Linked DNA regions of Homo sapiens. The protein of the gene in region 1 interacts with the protein of each later gene in a pairwise test. Each region holds a gene or a part of one and is shown on either strand. Other genes may lie near its edges.

Region 1 (2,703 bases):
TGCTGTTAACCAAGAATTTGTCCCCAGCTTGTGACTCTTCTCATTCTACACGTTCTCCAGGGAGATCTTACCCACTTTTGATTTATCCACCTGCCGCTCCAGTGTCATAAATCCAACACATCCAAAAGCAAATGCATCAGCTGCCCAGCCCCCTCCAGACATGCGATCTTCCTACACTCCTCACCTCAGTGAATGGCACCAAACCTGAGCCAGAAACCTGGCAGCGATGCTAGATTCCTCCCCGTCCCGTCCCATCTCGTCCTACTACCCGCACCCAGCCCACTCAACCAACCCACCAGTCCTGGCAATTTTACCGCCTTTAAATGTTTGTTATTGCTGTTGTTGTTGTCCAGGGGAAGGGACATTGTTTATTTCTGCTTGTTTGATGCTTATTACAGTAGATACTTAAAAAAAAAAAAAAATTATTTCAGGCTCAGGGAAAGTCTTATTTTGGTGTCAGCCCTGACTGTGATGCTCTATCTGAAAAGGAGGACAAACAGTTTAATCCAGACCAAGAAACAAGCAAACTTTAATTTCCGAGTACACAATTATGAAACTATGCCAGTAGCGACCTGCATGTTTGTCTCATCTCTTTAGCCACTTAAGTTCTCAAAACACTGCCAAAGCTTTCCTTCTCTATTAAACTCCCTTAAGCATTACTCATACTATTATTCAAGTTTAAGATGTGGCAAATCTCCCCAAGTGTATATGGCTGGTTCTCTTCTTATAAATGAATCCATAAGACAGTGTCCCCTAATTCATCTCTATTTTCTCTAACCTGCTTGATTTTCTAAAATTGGAAAAAAGTAATTCCGGTATACTAAAACCAGAGCCCAGGTTTCTCAACATCTTCAGTTAAATGACTTTTAATTCCCCAATCAAGGTATAACACACAAATGTTATCTGCGCTTTACAGTATAGAACTCTGAGTGGCTGGTGTCTTTTGGTTAGTGTAACCATTACACAGCAGTATCTGCTTGTCACCCCGGTCTTCTTTAGCCTCAAAAAATATTCAGAATTTGTTATGCACATGGGAGATTTCTTACAGCAGCACACTCACTTACAAAAAGACCAAAAAAATTTTATTGCTTTACAACAAGCCAGCAACAAACACAACTGAATAGTTATAAACATGACACTTCTAAATCCTCAAATGGAATTCCAAGACCAGAGTGTGCTTCTCCACTTTAATAGCATTTGTTAAAACTGAAATCCACAACTTCTGGCAAGTACTTCAATATTCTCAAGCAGAATCAATACTTAAAGAGGTTAAAAGAAAAAACTATTATCAAACGTATTGTCTGTGGGATGATCTAATTTAAAAGCCTTTCATGCTTGATCCTGGCAGTGCTATTACTGCACATTTTAAGTGACCATCATGGGCACTTTTAAGAACCTAACTTCACAAAAAGAGCTGTCACAAGAAAATTGTTCTAAAATCCCAATGCACAGTAACTCATGCCTCATTTCAACTGCTTTCCTCATGATGAAAAAATGTAGTCAGCCTTTAACTTGGCCTGATAAAAGCTGTGAAAGGTATGCCAAATGGCCCCTTGTACAAACAGGAAGCCCAAATTGTTGATCAGGCAAGAAAAGGTGACACTTTTAGATACTTCATATTATTCTGGAAAGCACTTTCCTTTCAGTGGGTGCAAAATAACTACGGATTAAGTCACCATTTTAATCATCTCAATTCAATAGCAAGAGTTTCCTGGCACATACTCTTAGTACTACCTGAAAATTGGGGCGTGTGGGGAAGACCACCAACAGTATTTACATGACTTGCCCCAAACTGTACATTTAAAACATGACTGTTGGGATAGTCACCAACAACCTGAAATTTCTTACTCTAAAACACATTACCAAATCCCACTGATTTATTTTGTGTGTGCTTTCGTGGTTTTTGTTTTTATATAGAGATGGAGTCTCACTTTGTTGCCCAGGCTGGTCTCGAACTCCTGAGCTCAAGCAGTCCCCCTGCCTCGGCCTCCCAGTGTGCTGGGATTACAGGTGTGAGCCACCACGCCCGGCCTGACTTATTTATAATTCACTATTTTATCTTTCTTCCAGACAAAGCAAAGCATTTTTCTCTAACAACATAATAGTCAGGATTTTGCTTATTAACTTACGTGGGTGGCTTTATACTCCCAGAACAAATGATCTAGCTGACTACTAGGAAAAAGGTTTCATAGTTTAGGAATATATCACATCACGTGTTAGTTCCAAATGTACATGAAGACAATTTTTAATTGCTGCAATAGCAGAATATTAAGGCAACATCAGAAAGCAGAGGTGTTTTAAAACACTAAGCCCTACTCCCTGCCTGGTGGAAAACAAAATGATGTTACTAAATCCCTTAATACAAAAACTTTCCAAAATAATCTGTTGAGCTTGACTTCGCAGTTTAATCTTTTACAGTTTGATGGCAGTGAGAGAGAACCTGCAGCTATAATTCCCTTGGCAAAAGAATTCAACATCTGATTTACTCACAATGCTTAAAATAAGGAAGGGAAAATATAAAATAAGTTTTCCTTGCTTGGCAACCATCTTTTTAATTATCTATTTTTATACTGTATCCAGGCTATGCCTGGGTGTGGATGGCTAACTCGCATATAGAAAATATCAAGCATCACATCTGGAAGAATCACAAACGAGACAATGAACTTCTCAATCAGTACATCAACAGTCAAGGTAAGCAAGAAA
Region 2 (7,849 bases), on another chromosome or scaffold:
CATCTTCATCACTGGGCAAATCGCCTGCTATGTGGCTGCTGCCATCGGAGAGACTCTCGACTTTGTCCGAACAACTTGAAGCATCTTCTTCCTTTTTGGTGCTGTCTGCCTCCGTGGTGGCTTTCTCTTTCAGCTTCTTTTTGCAGACTTTGACAATGTCATACATGTGGAGATAACTGGCAGCTGCTAGCACGTCTTCAATGGGCAAGTCTTTGAACTGGAGTTTCCCTTCATACATGAATTCAAGCAGGAGAGCGAAAGCGGGGGCTGTAACAATGTCGCTGTTCAGATGAACAATGTCTCTTTTGTCCAGCTGGTCCTTGTAAAAGAGGTGGAAATACATGCTGCATGAAGCCAGTACAGCTCGGTGCGCTCGGAACTGGGCATCTCCCACCAGAACAGTGCAGTCACAAAGAAAACCCTGGTGTCTCTGCTCGCTCAGACACTGTAGCAAATGTCTACTATGGTCTGGAAACTCCATACTGTCTTCATAACCTGGGGAGAGAGGAATTTCTCATTAGAGCCTGGTCAGGAACAACTTTTCAGCGCTCCAGTCCCCATATAAAAAAATTAATTCCGCTTTGGCCGCCGTGGTACATGTCCCTGAATTTTAATCAGGCTTATGACCCAAGCACCACCAAATCACACGGACAAGACCTAAATGCCAGAAGGAAAATGCACACTTTCTGAACTTCCTCACCCCCGCCAAAGAGCTTCCGACGCATCTCCATCTTCCTTGAACCCAAGTTCTAAAAGCCTTCCTTTAACTACAGTCTCTCACTAAGAATAAGAATTTAGATCTCTTCCAGAAGAAATTTAATTAACTCTACTTATCAAATTATGTCCCACAAAACCTACAAAATAGCTTTAATTTCAAAGGGAACAACTCATATAATAAACAAAGAAAAGTCCCAAACATATCCTGGAACATACAAGAAAACTTGTTCAACCATCCTTTTTATTACTTTTGCTACCTGACTGTGCTTAGAAAGCACAGTTTAAACACACACACACACATTTGGCTGAATCAAGAAAAAAAAATGAAATTGCATAATTAGTCCAGAAATTAGCAAACAACTTACTTTTAAAGTCAGGGTGTTACAACAAAAGCCCTGTGTATAAAAACAGATGTTAATGCCTTCAGATTTGCAGGTATAGCACACATGTACGAGATCAGAAGGAGCTGCACCAACAGATGGAAAAGATCATCTTTACTATGAACAAATCCAAAGATTTTTCAAAACGAACTGAGAAAAAAGTAGTTACATTTCTTTGTAGAAACTGTACTTTCAGAATATTAGGAACCAGAGGGGCTTTACTGAACTCCGAAAATTCTCATCTAAACTTTGATCCGTTGCAAGGCAAAATGAGTTTCATATTGAAATTAATTCAAACTTTTAAAAATAAAGGCATACAGCGCTTAAATAAAACTCAAAAGCTTTACAGGTTCAACGTTTTTTTTTAAGCCTTTTTAGAAAAAGAGAACCTTTTTTTTTTTCCTGGTTCTGCCTTACCTCAGCCAACAGAAAATACTTTGTTTCAATATAATTTGATATATTTCTGTTTTCCCACTAGCTTCTATTCTTGCAAATATTCATCATTGCCCTTGTTTTGTGATGAGGGAAAGTGAAATGGAGGGAGGAGAAAGGCAAAGATGTACAAAGGGTCAGAATTCAACTGCAGTGGGTAAACTCCTGAAAAATAAAGAAGACCCGACTTCCCCTTTCCTGTGACCAGAAGCAAGCCTCCACACCACCCATCTCAGCAAGTGCATTTTGGGAATAGATACACTTAATTTAATATTCAGAAATTACTTCCTTTCTTCTTGTTCTTCTACACTTTGCCCAAGACAGACTAAAACTTTATCCTAACCCCAGACACATTCTGCAAGATGCCACTGCTAGAATAAACTAAGATTTACAATACAATCACTTTAAGTGCCCCACAGCTAACATCAATCCTAATCCTTGAGAAGGCTAAAAATAAAGATTGGAGGGCAGCTCACAAGGTAGCCGTGATCAAATTAGGAGGCTGAGAGGACAGAGAGGGACGAAGAAGGAAGCTTATAAACATCTGATCCAGCTGACTGTGGCCATATGGCAGCTGCTGCCCAGATAAAGAGATTAAGAATAGAGGAGTGCGATTACAGCTGTCTGGCCAATTCAGGCAGCTCAAATCTACAAGTTCTAAATTAGTCGCTAACACAAAAACTCCTGCAAATAATTATTGTTATGCTGAAATAAAAGATCTCTTAAATATATATTTGAAAGAGAAATGAGGAAACCAGTCAAACTATTCTCCTGGGGACAAAAGTTTGGTTTTTTTTTCTTCTTCTTAAAAACCTGCAGTTTCAACAGCACTACAGCTGTATGTTTCAGTAGTGCTGCTCAATGTTTTGAAGAATAAAGTTTCACAGAGGAATTAATTATACAACAATCTAGCTGCTTAACTAGAATAATCTTCTCATATAAGTTTGAATGCTGGATTCCAGTTTACTATTTCCCCACCACCACCACCCCAATCAAATCTAAATAGCAGTGAACAACAAAAAAGCATTTTAATCCAACGTGATTTCCAAAAGCAGCATTTTAAAGCCTTTCTTAACATTTCAAAACTTGAAATATTTGTGTATTAAAGTTATTTACTCGCTCAAGTAAAAGGGATAAAAAATTAAAACTAAACAAGCTCAAGACTTTCAACTCCAGTAAGATGTTCATTTAATACTCAATTTCATATATTATTCCTAAACTGGGTTAGAAAAGTAATGTGATTTTTAAAATTAAATAAACAAAACACCAAAACAGAAATATGCTCAATCTAATCTCTTGCTACTCCTACCTTTAGGACACATAAACCTGATTAAGTCCTTTCCTCTGAGTCCTGCTGGCTCCAGGTCTGTTACATCGGTGGAAAAAAAGCAGACTAAGAGAGACAGATGCAAAGTGGAGATGATGTTAGAGAGGAATGAGATACCTTCTCCACCACAGATCCGCACACACTAACTCCCTGTCTGTGTGTTAGAATAAAAGGCTGAGGGATGGCAGGCTGTCAGCTGCTCTGACATCATGTTCAGATGGAAATGCTACCTCCAGCTGTGCTCCTTTTAATGCCATATGCTACTCCTCTACACTCCTGCCACCAGCTTTTTCTTAGGAGAACTTTTCTCTTCTGTTAGTATAAACAAAATACTTCAAAGTCTTCCTTTTTTTCCAAACTTTCTAACAGAAGAAATTGAAAAACTCAGCATATGGAGTTCTACTGTATTTATGGAATAGCAACACTTCTGTCTTAAGTTGGTGGACTGGCTTACATACTGACAGCACACTCAAGCCACGGTGCTATTCAGGAAATCCAGATTCACTTTTATTCAACTCCAACGTTTAGTTTCTAAAGCAGTTTAGGGATATTTTTAAACCAACCCATTTGACATCTCCAGTCCCATTTCAACATTATTACCGCACTTTTTTATTTTTTTCTGCTGAGATAATGGTATACATGTCTCAAATGTTGGCAGACTTGTTCAGAACTATTACTTCAGACTGGTTCACCTTATTATTTCACTCTTATGTAATTACTTATCTACAACTACCTTCTCAGAAAAATTTCTTACACTGCCACAGTCAATGCAAATTTCAATTCTCGGTACCAACAAGCTGAAACTGCACTTTCTGAAATCCTGGAAAGTACTTCAGTTCAACGAGACCAATTAATAAACTGATACAACCTGCTCCAGTCACTTAAAATGAATGCTGCACCTGCATATCTGATCTTTCTGCTCAGAAAAAGCAGAACCTTGCCTTCCCCTTGATCTGTGTCCCTTAACAATCTTTTTTTTCTTTGGGGGGGGGTCACTCTAATGTTTATGATCACAAGAAAATCTTTGTGTGGGGGGAAGCCAGGTCTAGTAAGTTTGAGAACTTTTCAGCCAGTTTGTGGGTCTTTTCTAATAGCTGATGAAACTGTAACGCGACCCGGGCTGGGCTGACCGGTACCGGGCAGGGTGCTGCGACATCTCTGAATGTCAAATACATCTCCTCAGACTCTTGGGAGGGCGAGGGGTAGAAAAGGAACTGGGGCCTGAGGCGCCAGCGTCCCAGCCCTGGTGATAACCACTTCGTTCCCATTAGAAAGCCGTGGCGGAGAGTTAAAGAGTAACAAAACCCGACGACTCCGTCCTGTCCTTCTCGCTTTCCCAAAGTCACAAACCTAACTTTCTCCAACTTCGCGGTGAGTGACATAATTATGAACACTTAGTCCAGGAGACATCCTCGGGAGATCAATTTCTTCCCAGCCACACCACCTATTCTCCACAAATGCCCTCGACCCATTCCAATATATCAGACATTAATCACCCCATTTACCCAGTGGGGTGGGGGGTGAGTGACAGTTTAATGAGTCCCGGGCACCGCAATGGGCCAGCAACTCCCACTCCACAAATCAACCCCTTCACGTCTCGCTACCGCGGATCCATAGAGGTTTTGTGAGGTTGGGGTTTTGTTTTTCAGAGAGGTGGGGGCGGGGGTGCCGAGTGGGGAAGCAATGCAAATCTTTACGTAGTTCGCCGTGCATAAAACACACGGGGAAAGAGGAAGGTTAAAACCACAGGGAAGGAGGTGGAGGGCGCAGAGCCGGTGCAGCAGGAAAACACCTTAAACAACAGAGGAGAAAACAGACCCGGGTCACGGCAACAACAAAAGAAAAGTCGTAAGAAGCAGCCAGCGGGAGGAGAGTGGTTGCTACCGCTTCCCCGATGCCGCGACGCGCGAGCCCCCGGGGCCTCCGGGCAACTGCACCAGCCCGGGAGGGCCCCCTCCCCCGCCGGCCCCCTCCCCCGGGCGCCACTGCAGCTGCACCGGTCCCCGGAGCCGCGGCCGTCCCGGGCGCCACTGCAGCTGCGGCTGCTCCCAAGCCCCCTCCCCCAGCCCGCCGCCCTCCGCACCCGAGAGGCGCCACCGCAGCTGCACCGGCCGGGAGCCCGCCCCGCGCCGCAGCTGCACCGGCCCGCGGGGGCGCGGCGCGGAGCCGGGAACCCGCACCCCGCCCGACCCCGCAGCTGCAGCGGCCCCGTCCCCGCGCCCGGGCCTCCCGCAGCTGCGCCGCCCCCCGCCGCCCCAACAGCTCCAACCACACAAACTAACTCCACTCGCGGGGGCGCCCCCGACCCGGCCCGCCCTCCGCCCGCGCCGCCCAGCCGGCCGGGGCCGCACAGCTGGCGCCCCCCGCCCGCCGGGGTGCCGGGGCGCGGAGGGGGCGCCAGGTCAGGGGCCAGGGGCCGGCGCCGGGACTCACACGGAGCGGCCCTAAGTCACCGCGTCCCCGCCGCCGCCGCGTCCTCCGCCTCCTCCTCCTCCTCCTCCCGGCCGCCGCCGCCGCCGCCGGACTTGGTGGGCTTCCTCCGGCTCTTGCCCCCCTCCCTCCCGGCCCCCCCACCCCCCAATCCCGGCTCCGTCGCCCGCTCCCCCCCGCCCCTCCCTCCCGCCCACCCCCGCTGGCAGCCGGAGGAGCGCGGCGGAGCGAAGAGGGCCCCACTCTCAACGGCTCCCCATGGCAGCAGCCCAGCGGCGGCCGCAGCCTGCCAGACACAGCGAGGGAGCGAGCGAGGGAGCGAGCGCGGAGCCGCCGGGCCGGGTGGGGGGGCGGGGGCGGGGGGGGGGCGGGCGCGGGGGAGGGGGAGGGGAGGGGGCGGGAGGACGCACCACGCACGCACGCGGCGGCGCCGGCCAGATGTTCCCCCCACCCTCAGTCCGCCCCTCTCCTTCCCCTGCCTCCCTCCCTCCGGGCGTTGGGCTTCTGCGATTGACCGAAAGCGGCTGGACCGGCGCTCCCCGCCCGCCCCCAGCCCTCAGACTCCTCCAATGGGAAGGCGGCTCTTCGGGAAGGCGGAGGGGGTGGTGGGCAGTCGTCGGACTGACAAGGGGGCCCAGCCAATGGGGGTGGCGAGCCGTAGCTGCCCTCCCGCGCGTTCCAATCGCAGGCAGCAACTGTTGGGGTGGGCGGGGCTCGGGCGGGCGGGGATCCGGAGCGAAGCGGCGCGGGGCGGAGTCCTCGGGCGCAGCGGCGGTGGCAGCAGCGGCGCCCCTCTGGGTGACTTGGCCGTGAGAAAGTGAAAGGAGCCCGCAGGCGGCGGCGACAGCTGCGCTGGGAGGGGCTTGTTTCCAGGCTCAGAGGCCCCGCGCACTCTGCGGGTGCGGAGCGAGCTTTTCGGTGTGCACTGTGACAACCACAAACACACTTTTGAACGTAGTGGGGCTTGGCTGCTGCGAGTTACGCAGGTATCCTGGAGAGGCAGGGCACCCGGGGACACGGATGACTCGAGGCCGACTTCGGGTGGCTCTCTCTGCTCCTTCCTGTGGGGGTGAAGACGCCCGGGTCCTCGCCGGCCCGTGCGCAGGGGAGCGGGACCGAGGAGCGCTCTCGCTCCGTCCTGCGGCGTCCCGCGCCCAGGTGCACATCGGGGAGCTGGGGACGCAGGCGACTCAGGCAGTTTCTGGGAGTCGTTCTTACGTCATCATGTCACGGGCAGAACAGGGCAGAGCGCCCGCCTTTCTCGCAAAACCCTCCTGTCCCTTGTGTACTTACACTGTTACAAGTAAAGACTTCCCCAAGTGACCAAATTTTAGAGCATTACAGTAAAATTGGTACTTGCAGATGCCTCAGCTTGATTCCTTAATTGATACGTATCTAGCCACAACTTTAAACTACCGAGGGACGATGTAAGACTGCTGTGTCGCTTTTCTTTCCTTCAAATAAACTTTTACTCGGTACCTGTTCTTGGCAATTAGACTGCGTTAATCACAGCCACAAAGACGTGGAAATGTCTGCCGTCAAGAAATTGGAAATCGTATCGAGGCAAGAATTACAAGTAAAAAGTTGAATAACAAGTGGTGGGGGAGGGGGAATGGCTGAAGAAAATAAAATAGAAAAAAAAAAACAACTTCATAGTGAGGAAGTCAGTCCACTAGTCATTGTCTAATGAAATGTGTTTATTCTTTGCTAACAGAACCCAGACTGGCAAGCCTGTTGCTAACCAACCTGCCAGGAGACCTTTCAACTGGGCAAAATGTGCTTTCACTTTGTTCCAGGTCAAATGGGTAAAGTAGCTGGAAAGTATTGTGTGGGCAAATCAGACATGTTGAATTGCTAATGAAGTAAAAACAGGAGCAGACAGAATTCCTGGAACTGAAATAGCTTCGAGATATCTGGTTAGAAACAGTAGTGATGTGCCTACTTTTTTCTCAACCCTCTACGCCCTCATGATTCATCACTGAGGTCAAGGATATCCTATGAAAATTGGAGTTTTTGTATTCCATGAAGGCTTTTGTTGTATCTGTGCTGTCGATGAATTCTAGGTCTTTTCAGTCTAGTGGTAGAAGGCCCAATTTCAGTCTGACCTGTTTCAAGGTAAGGAATAAATGTTATTCACGAATGAAATATACAGGCACACAAAATGAGATGTGAAAAGTATATGTTTCACCAACTAATTCAGGGAAAAAGAAATGTTTGCGTTATCAAAGCTGTTTCTCATCTACTAAAAGTTAAAATTAAGGAGAGTGACAGATCTCTACATGAGTAGACAGAAAGTAATTGATAGTGTCAGGATATTAATTCATGAAAATATTAGTACACTCGGATTATCTACAAAAAGCTTAGAAACTCAGCTGTACTGCATCTAAAGCCAAGGCATAGCTCTAACAAAATGTTTTATAGAATGTACCTGCAAGTAGAGTAACAGCCCCAAAGATATGGAGGAGACATTGATACATCAAAAATTGTAACCTGTGTGTGTATGTGTGTGTGTGTGTATTGTGTTTCCCTTACAGTCATTACTAGAATCCATTTTGGGAACTGA

Evidence for each region. Proteins that work in one complex are often made in the same cells at the same time.
Region 2: the proteins of TSN (region 1) and ZBTB18 interact in a two-hybrid assay, tested with the Homo sapiens proteins (one study listed by BioGRID).

The regions. Positions count from the first base shown.
Region 1 is NC_000002.12:121,765,651-121,768,353, reverse strand, and holds the end of TSN (translin), read right to left. Parts: 3' UTR 501-2,703; downstream 1-500. UniProt on the Homo sapiens protein: DNA-binding protein that specifically recognizes consensus sequences at the breakpoint junctions in chromosomal translocations, mostly involving immunoglobulin (Ig)/T-cell receptor gene segments.
Region 2 is NC_000001.11:244,046,434-244,054,282, reverse strand, and holds the start of ZBTB18 (zinc finger and BTB domain-containing protein 18), read right to left. Parts: upstream 3,001-7,849; 5' UTR 2,852-3,000; coding exon 2,839-2,851; intron 1,184-2,838; exon of another isoform or gene 1,083-1,183; intron 789-1,082; exon of another isoform or gene 496-788; coding exon 1-495.